2 separate regions of the Homo sapiens genome follow, and region 1 is linked to region 2. Evidence: fine-mapped expression QTL. A gene starts in region 2. The other region holds a variant in brackets. All regions are shown on one strand. Distances are from middle to middle. Region 1 has its middle 37 kb from the start of SMCR2. Region 2 holds the start of RASD1 (ras related dexamethasone induced 1).

Region 1 (5,366 bases), 150 kb before region 2:
TTATGTAGTATTTACATTGTATTAGACATTATAAGTAATCTAGAGATGATTTAAAGTACATGGGAGGATGCACTTAGGTTATATGCAAATACTATGTCATTTTATTTATTTATTTATTTATTTTCTTTGAGATGGCGCTTTGCTTTTGTTGCCCAGGCTGGAGTGCAATGGTGCGATCTTGGCTCACTGCAACTGCTGCCTCCCAGGTTCAAGCATTTCTCCTGCCTCAGCCTCCCGAGTAGCTGGGATTACAGGTGTGTGCCACTACACCCGGCTAATTTCTGTATTTTTAGTAGAGACGGGGTTTCACCATGTTGACCAGGCTGGCCTCAAAGTCCTGGCCTTAGGTGATCCACCCACCTCGGCCTCCCAAAGTGCTGGGATTACAGGCGTGAGCCACTGCGCCTGGCCACTATGCCATTTTATACACGGGACTTGAGCATCCTTGGATTTTTGGTATCTACTGTGAGGGTCCTGGAACAAATCCCTCGTGGATATCAAGGGACAACTACACTCTTGAGGTTCTGGGGGTTAGGACTTCAACATTAGAATTTTGGGGGATACCCAAGCATGGTAGCTCATACCTGAATTCTCAGTGTTTTGGGTGGCTGAGGCAGCAGGATCTCTTGATCCCAGGAATTTGAGACCAGCCTGGGCAATAAAGCAAGACCTTGTCTTTACCAAAAATAATTTTAAAAATTAGGTGGACACGGTGGTGCACGTCTGTAGACCCAGCTACTTGGGAGGCTGAGGAATGTCGCTTGAGCCCAGGAGTTCAAGGCTGCAGTGAGCTATGATCATGTCATTACACTCCAGCCTGGATAACAGAGGAAGACTCTGTCTCTTAAAAAAAAAAAAAGAAAAGAAAAAAGAAAAGAAAAAAGAATTTTAGGGGGATATCTCCCAAATTAACTATTTGCCCTTATCCCAGGCTCTGCTTCTGGAGGAGCCCAGTGGAGCCACTGCCCTACCTTGCTCTTCATCCCGGTGAGGATCAAGCCAGCAGATGCTGGCCACTGCTCCACGGCCATGGACTCAATACCCAACACAACAGACAAATCCCTGTCCTGTGGAGCTCATGGCCAGGTTGGGGGTGGGGGTGGGGCAGGCTGCAAACGTGCCATTGGTTTGGCTGAGGGTGGGCCTGGGGAGGCTACTTGAGCCCAGGGTGGTCAGAGAAGGCCTTACCAAGGAGGTAATATTTGAGCTGAGACCTGAATGGTGAGAAGATTCCAGCCATGGCAGGTGTCGGGAGAAGAGCACTTCCACTATCGGATACAGCAAAATGAAGCTGTCTCTGCCCCTCCCATCCTACTTCCCAACCACAAGCACTCAAGCCAGGAAGACCTGAGGAGCATGACTTCAGGGAGAAGAGCCAGATTCCTGTCCTGAGAGCAGTGATGGAGGCTGCTTAGTCTGGAGGAGAAAGTGGAGCTCCCTGGATCCTCCAAAGGGCTGTCAGAGGGCAGAAAGGTTGATGAGCTCTTCGTGGAAGTAGAGCAAGAGCCAAGAGTAGATGTTACACGGAGATAGCAAGAACTTTGTGATGAAGACACATGGAGAGTGAGACCCCCACCCTGGACGTATTTAAGCCCAAGCTGGATGATCTCTTGGCAGGATACCATAGAGGGGACCCAGAAAGTCTGGGTTCGCTGTCAGAAGCACCCAGACAGGGCCAGCCCTCTGATTTTCAGCTGTGGTAACAGTGGGCCTCCTCTCCTGCCCCTCTTATGAAGTCAAAGAAAACAACTCTGCCCTTGGCCTAGAATCACAACTGCCTGGGGACAGTTTCCCAAGGGCACATGGTAATTCCTGTACTGTCCTTGTCATCCGCCAGGTGGCACTGTTTGCCTGGTGTTGGGGCAGAATTGAACTCCCTTAAGCATTTTTAAACGACTGGTGAACTGGGGAGATACCAGTGTTGCAAGGACCCAGGAATGGCCAGAAGGTGCACTGCCCGAGTGTGGAAAATCCTTACAGACCCCGAGACATGCGCTAAGATGGTAGTGGGTATATGTGGCCTCATGAGAAGGGTCAGTGCAGACCAGAGGCCCCTCTCACCTCTGCCACCTTCCAGCTGTGTGACATTGAGCAAACCACCTCTCAGAGTCTCGGTTTTCTCCTCCATAAATCAAAGACTGGCCCCACCTTGAGATTTTGCCGAGATGATTAAAAACAATCCACGTGCCTGGCCCGGAGCAGGTCGCCAATAAAACATGGCAGCAGCCATCAGTGGTGTAGGAACTGTGGTGTAGGAACTAAGCTCTCAACGTCTAAATGGCCCCCCAAAGTCTCCAAGAGCCCCTTCTCTTATCTGAGGAAAGACAGGTGGACGTTCCTGCCCCTCTTAGTCCAATGATGGGAACTTTGATTGCCCTTGAGGGCCCTGGTGGCTCTCCAGGCTAGTGAGGCCTCTGCAAAGCATGGCTTTCTTCCTGTTGGC[G/A]ACTTCCATTCAAGCAGATGCTCTCCAGACCCCAACTCCATAGAGAATCACCCTTTTGGAAAAAATGGTGCTCCTCTCCTCTTCATGGTTTGCCTTTTTTTTTTTTTTTTTTTTTGAGACAGGGTCCCGCTCTGTCACCCAGGATGGAGTGCAGTGGTGCGATCTCAGCTCACTGAGCTCACTCAGCTCACTCTGCCTCCTGGGTTCGAGTGATCCTCATGCCTCAGCCATTCACCTCCACGCCTGGCTAATTTTTTGTATTTTCAGTAGAGATGGGGTTTTGGGGTTTCGCCATGTTGGCGAGGCTGGTCTCGAACTCCTGAGCTCAAGTGATCTGTCTGCCTCAGCCTTCCAAAGTGCTGGGATTGCAGGGATGAGCCACCTCACCCGGCCTTATGGTTTGCTTTTCTTATTTGGTTTCTTGATAACAATTAATAGAGGTTCTTGAATCCCTCAAAAGTGTTCACTGTGGAATGTGAAGCTTTCTGTAGTTTCATTCCTGGTGCTAAGTGCTGGTAGAAATTTGTGTAGATTCCCTTGGGACTTTTTTTTGTTTGTTTTTTTGTTTTTTTGTTTTTGTTTTTTGAGATGGAGTCTCGCTCCGTCGCCCAGGCTGGAGTGCCGTGGTGCAATCTCGGCTCACTGCAAGCTCTGCCTCCTGAGTTCACGCCATTCTCCTGCCTCAGCCTCCCGAGTAACTGGGACTACAGGCACCCGCCACCACGCCTGGCTAACTTTTTGTATTTTTAGTAGAGACGGGGTTTCACCGTGTTAGCCAGGATGGTCTTGCTCTCCTGACCTCGTTATCTGCCTGCCTTGGCCTCCCAAAGTGCTGGGATTACAGGCATGAGCCACTGCACCCGGCCCCCTTGGGACTTTTTCTAAGCATATGCCTAAGCCCACATTCATGTAAAAGTTATTATTACTTTTGAAAAATGAAAAAATACTGGTTCCTCCATTCATTCATTCGTTGTGCATTCAACCTGTGTTTGGTGCTGTGAGCCCTAGGGTGCAGTGAAAAACAAGGCTCTTAAAACCCTGCCCTCAGTTGGCATTCCAGCTGGGAATGACATACACTCCATAAGCAGGAGCAGAGGAGGGCGCTGGTAAATTGGAGTAAAGGGTTAGCGAGTGTGTTTGTTTCCTGCTGTAATGAATTGCCACAAGTGAGAGAAATTTGCTCTCTCACAGTTCTGGAGGATAGAAGCCTGAAATCAGTGTCACTGTGCAGAAATCAAGGTGTCTGCAGGGCCGTGCTCCCTCTGCAGGGCTCTAGGGCAGACTTGTTCCTCGCCTCCTCCAGTTTCTGGCAGCTGCCGGCCTTCCTTGGCTTGTGGCCACATCACTGCCGTCTTCCAGGCCAGCATCTTTGGAGGTCTCTCCACTCCATCTGCACCCTGTCTTCTCTTCTGTGTGTGGTCATCACTCTGCCTCCTCATTCTTTTTTTTTTTTTTTTTTTGAGATGGAGTTCCACTCTTGTCACCCAGGCTGGAGTGCAGTGGTGCAATCTCAGCTCACTGCAACTTCTGCTTCCTGTGTTCAAGCGATTCTCCTGCCTCACCCTCCCCAGTGGCTGGGACCACAGGCACGTGCCACCACACCCGGCTAATTTTTTTTTTTTTTTTTTGAGATGAAGTCTCACTCTGTTGCCCAGGCTGGAGTGCAGTGGCGCCATCTCAGCTCACTGCAACCTCTGCCACTTGAGTTCAAGCAATTCTCCTGCCTCAGCCTCCCGAGTAGCTGGGACTACAGGTGTGTACCACCACGCCTGGCTAATTTTTGTATTTTTAGTAGAGATGGGGTTTCACCATATTGGCCAGGCTGGTCTCAAGCTCCTGACCTTGTGATCCACCCGCCTTGGCCTCCCAAAGTGCTGGGATTACAGGCGTGAGCCACCGTGCCCGGCCAATTTTTTGCATTTTTAGTAGAGACAGGGTTTCATCATGTTGGCCAGGCTGGTCTTGAACTCCTGACCTCAGGTGATCCTCCCACCTCAGCCTCCCAAAGTGCTGGGATTACAGGCGTGAGCCACCACCCATGGCCTGCTTCCCCATTCTTATAAAGACACTAGTGATGGCATTCAGGGCCCACCCCGATACCCCAGGACAATCTCCTCATCTCAGAATCCTCAGTCACACCTGATAGACCCACCCCGCTTTTTGCCATGTAAGAAAACTGTCTCAGTTTTTTGTTTCTATAAAACAAACTGGGTCATTTATAAACAATAGAGGTTTATATGCTTATGGTTCTGGAGGCTAGGGAGTCCAAGCGCATCACACTGGCATCTGGTGTGGGACTTCTCATGGCATCATTCCATGGCACAGGGCTTCACATGGGAGAGAGCAGAAGCTGTCAGCTCAGGTCTTTCGTCCTCTCCTTTTTTAAACAATTTGTTGGAGACAGGACTCACTCCATTGCTCAGGCTGGAGGGCAGCAATGTGATCACGGCTCACTGTAGCCTCCACCTCCCCAGGCTCAGGGAATCCTCTCACCTCATGCCTCCCGAGTAGCTGGGACTGCAGTACGTGTGGACGAAATCACCACACCCAGCTAATTTTTGTATTTTTTATAGAGATGAAGTTTCACTGCATTGCCCAGGCTGGTCTTAAAAACCTGGGCTCAAGCTATCCACCCACTCAGTCTCCCAAAGTGCTGGGATTACAGGCATGAGCCACCTCACCCAGCCTCTTCCTCTTCTTAGAAAGTCATCAGTCCCTTCCTGGGGGCCCTGCCCCAATGACCTCATCTAATCCCAACTACCTCCCAAAGGCACCACCTCCAATCAACATATGAATTTGGGGATTAAGTCTCCCACACATGAAATTTAGGAGACACATTCAAAACACAGTAGTCTGCCCTGGGCCCCAAAATGCATGTCCTCACATGCAAAATGTACTCATTCCATCCCCAAAGCCCCAAAGT
Region 2 (5,366 bases):
CCTCCACTCATATCAAATGGACCCTCTTGGGACTAGAGCCCCAGGAGGCAATGGCTGTGTGGGGTCCACCTTCACTATAGCCCTGGCCATCAGTCATCCCAAGTTAGAGCCCGGCTGCCCATGCAGTGCCGCTGTGGGAGGCACAGGAAGGCGGTGCTCAGTCTGAAGGTGGTTCAGGTCCGTACCTTAACTGAGCCCCCCCATGTACCCTCAACTGGCTCCTTTATGCAGTGAACACCCTGCACCACTGCAGCCCTATATCCAGGGCTGCGACTCAGTTCCTTCTCCCCTTCTCCCAGACTCTGGCAGACATACCTCAGATGGGGGCAGGAACCAAGAATGGCGGGGCTCCAGCCCCAGCTAGCCTGTCGGATAACTGCTGCATAAGTGACACCAGGAATCAGAGCCAGGCCAGGGCCACTGATGAGCCCTTGGATGCTCACTGTGTGATGCGTGCATTTGAAATATCTGACAGTAAGAGTGAGGCCTGGGAGAGATGCAGGGACTCTGAGGATGGGGGCCAAGCTGGGCTGAGAAACAAGTTAGTGGTGTCCTGCAGCAGCCCCTACAGCAAGTGCCAGCGTGGGAGGGAGGTGGGTAGGCATGGGGTGGGTGGTATGGCACTCACAGCACTGCCTGCAGACCACCACCTGACAGCTGGGCCGGTGGTGCCAGCTAATGGCTCCCTAGTTTTCTCGTAAGTCAGACGTGGCCAAAGCAAAACACTGAGCACACAGGTTGCCTTGAGGAGCAGTGACTGCCTCAAGAGCTCAGGGCTGAGGAGCTGGCTCCAGACAGCCTGTTGCCAATGTTCAGCAACATCACCCCACTCCTGGTTACTGATCGACCTGGTGTGCTCTTGAGAGTACCCCCACCAGGCCTCATGGGTCAATACTACTGTTATTGTTGCTATTGTTATTACCAGGCCCCGCCCTCCTAAAGCATTTGCATATTTTCATCCTTAATCACAGAACCAGAATCAGTATCTTCCAGAAGAGAAAACTGAGGCCCAGGAGAAAGCAAGAGGCTGTGCTGTGCTCCCAGGGCCTTCCTGGCTCGCTGTGGCTTTGAGCTCCAGGTCTCTCAGCTAGACAATGAGAACGTCGGCCCACGCGCGGCACAGTAAAAGCCCAAAATGCTATGATGGACGGGGTGGGCCGCTGGCTGCAGAGCCCTCCATACCACAGAGCATCTCTGGCTGGGAGAAAGGAGCAGGCTGAGGCCTGCAGCAGAGCGCGGGGTTGGGGACCGCTCCTGTTGGGCCCCAGCAAGGCGCCCTGAGACCCCTGCTCCATCCCTGCCGCTCCCCACCCGCCTGCTCCTAGCCTCTGTTCTAGCTCTGCCCGCGGCGGCCACAGCCTCCCCGAGCCGCCGGCCGGGCCCTCTGCTGCCCTCTGGCGGCCCGAGCGCGCGGTGCCGAGCTCCGCGCCTGAGGCCCTGAAACCCCGCGTCCGCCCGGCGGTCGCCTCCCGGGAACAAGAGCCCGGCTGGGGACCGGAGCGGAAGGGGGCTGGGGCTGGGGCTGTGCTCTGAGGACTGCAATATACGGTCCGCGCAAGCACTCAGCAAACGCTGCTGCGCTTACTGGGTTACTTACTAGATTCCTATTCTCTGGGGAAACTGAGAACCAAAGAAAATAAGTGTACGCGCGCGGGAGGTGCAGGAATGGGGGTCCTTGCCCGAAGTCGCAGAGGGACAGGGGCACCGCCGGGACCAGAACCCCGACGCCCCTGCGGCCGCCGAGCCCGCGGCAGTGGAAAAGCGGAGTCCGAGCGCCTCCAGCCTCAGCCCGACCCTGGACTGCTCCCCCCAGCCCCCGCGCCCAGAGAGCAGGAGCCCGGCAGCGGGTGACGAGGTCGCCGGGACTGGGAGCCGGTGCGGGGGAGGCGGGCCCCGCGGGGCGTGACGCACCGAGCTGGGAGGGCCGGGGCGGGGCAGCCGAGCAGGCTGCATATAAGGGCGGCGGCCGGGCGCCAAAGCCAGAGCAAGCGGCCTGTGCCCAGATCCTGGGAGAACCCCAGCCGAGCCCAGCCTAGCCCGAGCCCAGCCCGAGCGGAGCCGGAGCCCCAAGCCCGAGCCGCGCCCAGCCCGAGCAGAGCCCTCCAGCCGCTCACCCCGCGTGCCACCCCAGCGACCCTCAGCCGCTCTCTGCCCTTCTCTCGGCCCCGCGCCCGCCCTCGCGGCCCCTCTGCCCAATGAAACTGGCCGCGATGATCAAGAAGATGTGCCCGAGCGACTCGGAGCTGAGTATCCCGGCCAAGAACTGCTATCGCATGGTCATCCTCGGCTCGTCCAAGGTGGGCAAGACGGCCATCGTGTCGCGCTTCCTCACCGGCCGCTTCGAGGACGCCTACACGCCTACCATCGAGGACTTCCACCGCAAGTTCTACTCCATCCGCGGCGAGGTCTACCAGCTCGACATCCTCGACACGTCCGGCAACCACCCGTTCCCCGCCATGCGGCGCCTCTCCATCCTCACAGGTGAGCCGGGGGCCGGGCAGGTGCGGGAGGGAAGGGCGGGGAACCCTCGGCCAGGGCGCCCCGCGAGCGCCGGTCCGGCTGCCGCGCGCCGAGTAGTGCGCTTCGCGCTTAGAGAGGCTAGCGCGCCCCGCGCGGCCTCAAAGTCAGCCCGACTTGTCCCCTGGGCGGCCACCCTCACCTTCTCCTTTTCTGCTCTCTGTGCCCCCTCTAGGAGACGTTTTCATCCTGGTGTTCAGTCTGGACAACCGCGACTCCTTCGAGGAGGTGCAGCGGCTCAGGCAGCAGATCCTCGACACCAAGTCTTGCCTCAAGAACAAAACCAAGGAGAACGTGGACGTGCCCCTGGTCATCTGCGGCAACAAGGGTGACCGCGACTTCTACCGCGAGGTGGACCAGCGCGAGATCGAGCAGCTGGTGGGCGACGACCCCCAGCGCTGCGCCTACTTCGAGATCTCGGCCAAGAAGAACAGCAGCCTGGACCAGATGTTCCGCGCGCTCTTCGCCATGGCCAAGCTGCCCAGCGAGATGAGCCCAGACCTGCACCGCAAGGTCTCGGTGCAGTACTGCGACGTGCTGCACAAGAAGGCGCTGCGGAACAAGAAGCTGCTGCGGGCCGGCAGCGGCGGCGGCGGCGGCGACCCGGGCGACGCCTTTGGCATCGTGGCACCCTTCGCGCGCCGGCCCAGCGTACACAGCGACCTCATGTACATCCGCGAGAAGGCCAGCGCCGGCAGCCAGGCCAAGGACAAGGAGCGCTGCGTCATCAGCTAGGAGCCCCGCCGCGCTGGCGACACAACCTAAGGAGGACCTTTTTGTTAAGTCAAATCCAACGGCCCGGTGCGCCCCAGGCCGGGAGCGCGCGCGGACTGGCGTCTCCCCTCCCGGCGATCCGCCCCCAGCACTGGGGAGGCGCCACTGAACCGAGAAGGGACGGTCATCTGCTCCGGAAGGAAAGAGAACGGGCCAAGACTGGGACTATTCCCCACCCCCGGTCCCCCATTGAGGCCCGCCACCCCCATAACTTTGGGAGCGAGGGCCCAGCCGAGGGTGGATTTATCTTCTCAAAGACCTAAGAGTGAGCGCGGGGTGGGGGAGGGATGTGAAGTTATCCAGCCTCTGCTAGGCTTCAAGAAACCGTCATGCCCGCTTGAGGGTCAGGACCCACGGGGCATTATCTTGTCTGTGATTCCGGGTTGCTGTGACAGCCGGTAGAGCCTCTGCCCTCCCAAAACTAAGCGGGGGGGCGTGGGTCAAATCATAGCCAAGTGACTTGTTTACATGTGAGTGAAACTGCACAAAGGAACACAAAACAAAACTTGCACTTTAACGGTAGTTCCGGTGTCAACATGGACACGAACAAAACCTTACCCAGGTGTTTATACTGTGTGTGTCTGAGGTCTTTAAAGTTATTGCTTTATTTGGTTTTTTAATATACAATAAAATAATTTAAAATGGAAAACCGGTTTTTTTTTTTTTTTTTTTGCTTTTAGAGATGGCTGGAGTGGGGAAGGGTGGGGAGAAGGAAAGGGCTGGGCTTTGACTTAGGTGGAACTAGAACTTACCTTCCCCAGAACTGGAAAATAACCCTGGCCTTCTGAAGGCAGCTTCAGCTGCCAGAAAAGCCCCAGATGCCTGGGGCATCTATGTAGGGGATGGTTCCCTAGAAAACCGGGAAGAATATAAAGGATTTCAGGGTCCCCCCTGGAGATGAACTCTTTCTAGCCATCCACCCGCTTAATTTTCTTTGGGTTAGATGACAAAAGGCCTCATTTTCTGAGAGAATGTTCTGAATTCTTCAGCGTAAAAGCCACTGGAACTGTGCCTAACCATTTTGTCACCAGACTCAGTGTGGGCCCAGGCAAACTTTCGGACTGTTGGAGGCATCAGTCAGGCCCTGGGGAAAGAGCCTGAGACCCCATCTGGAAACAGGACCATCCTGGCGCGCCCCCACCACCCGCTCACTCCAGGGTGCCACCCTGTCTGGAAACAGCTAACTCCTCAGCCTCTGCTCCCCTCTAGCTCCAGGAAGTGCTCCTGGCCAGGTGTAGAGCCCCATCCCCCTTCAGCCTTGCTGTCTCCGTCTCATGGCTAAGGCACCCCAGAACACCAATCTCTCTGCCACTAGTACTGCAAACCTGTTGGTGGGTGACACCTGCCAAGCCTCTAATTCTTCACCCCGGGAAGAGAGAACACCCTCGGCATGGGCTCACTGTGGGGATTAAGTGTGATGTTTGAAAAGTACTTAGCATAAATGCCGGCCACCCAGTAATCCAAGTAATTGGTGGCTTTCAGAGGACGCTCAGCCCTGTGAGAGACACTCAAAATTGTCCTAGAAGGATTTCAACCCTGCTCTGGTGAGGGCGGCTCCCCACAGGACTGAACCTCCTCGAGTCACCAAAAGGCACCCCCCACCTCCCCCCTCCAAAAATAAAAGGCAACTAAGGACAGCCCAGGGATGACCCGCCAGGCAAACTGCCCTTGAGGCCAGCCGGGAGAGGAGTTCCTGTTCCACACTGGTTCAGCGGGTGTGTGTGCTGGGGCGGGTGTGTGTGCTGGGGCGGAGGGAGTGAGGAGCAGAGGTGTGGTTGTGTCTGAAGAGACTGAGAGAAACATTTTCCTCTCAACTATCTGAGAGCCATCCCACTATGAATTTCTCAGTACAAAAAGCATTATGTCCTGAGACAGCAGAGCATAAGTCCTTTTAATTATGTGTTTGAAAAATGTCACAAGTCAAAAAAGGAACACAAGGCAGGCTCCGGCTCCCTCCACCCCCGTGAGGAGCCCTTGTCCATTTCAGCCTTGCACTCAGAAAGACCCCGGGGGTCTTGTAGTTCCACGTGCTTCATGTTTCGTGGTATCTGTCAGAGCCTTAAAACAGGCCCACC

The links.
Region 1: its variant is fine-mapped to the expression of RASD1 in whole blood (TOPMed, PIP 0.98).

Annotation. Positions count from the first base shown.
Region 1 is chr17:17,638,468-17,643,833 of GRCh38, reverse strand. No RefSeq gene overlaps it. Among named protein-coding and RNA genes, the nearest start is that of SMCR2, 37 kb to the left of the region's middle. The variant G/A (reference allele first, on the strand shown) is at 2,444.
Region 2 is chr17:17,493,011-17,498,376 of GRCh38, reverse strand. RASD1 (ras related dexamethasone induced 1) reads left to right here and starts at 1,982. Exons shown (of 2, transcript NM_016084.5): 1 at 1,982-2,481; 2 at 2,693-3,940. The coding sequence starts at 2,196. The coding sequence ends at 3,252. MED9 (mediator complex subunit 9) reads right to left here. Exons shown (of 2, transcript NM_018019.3): 2 at 5,156-5,366. RefSeq lists silencers at 1,262-1,491, 1,542-1,671, 1,832-2,051.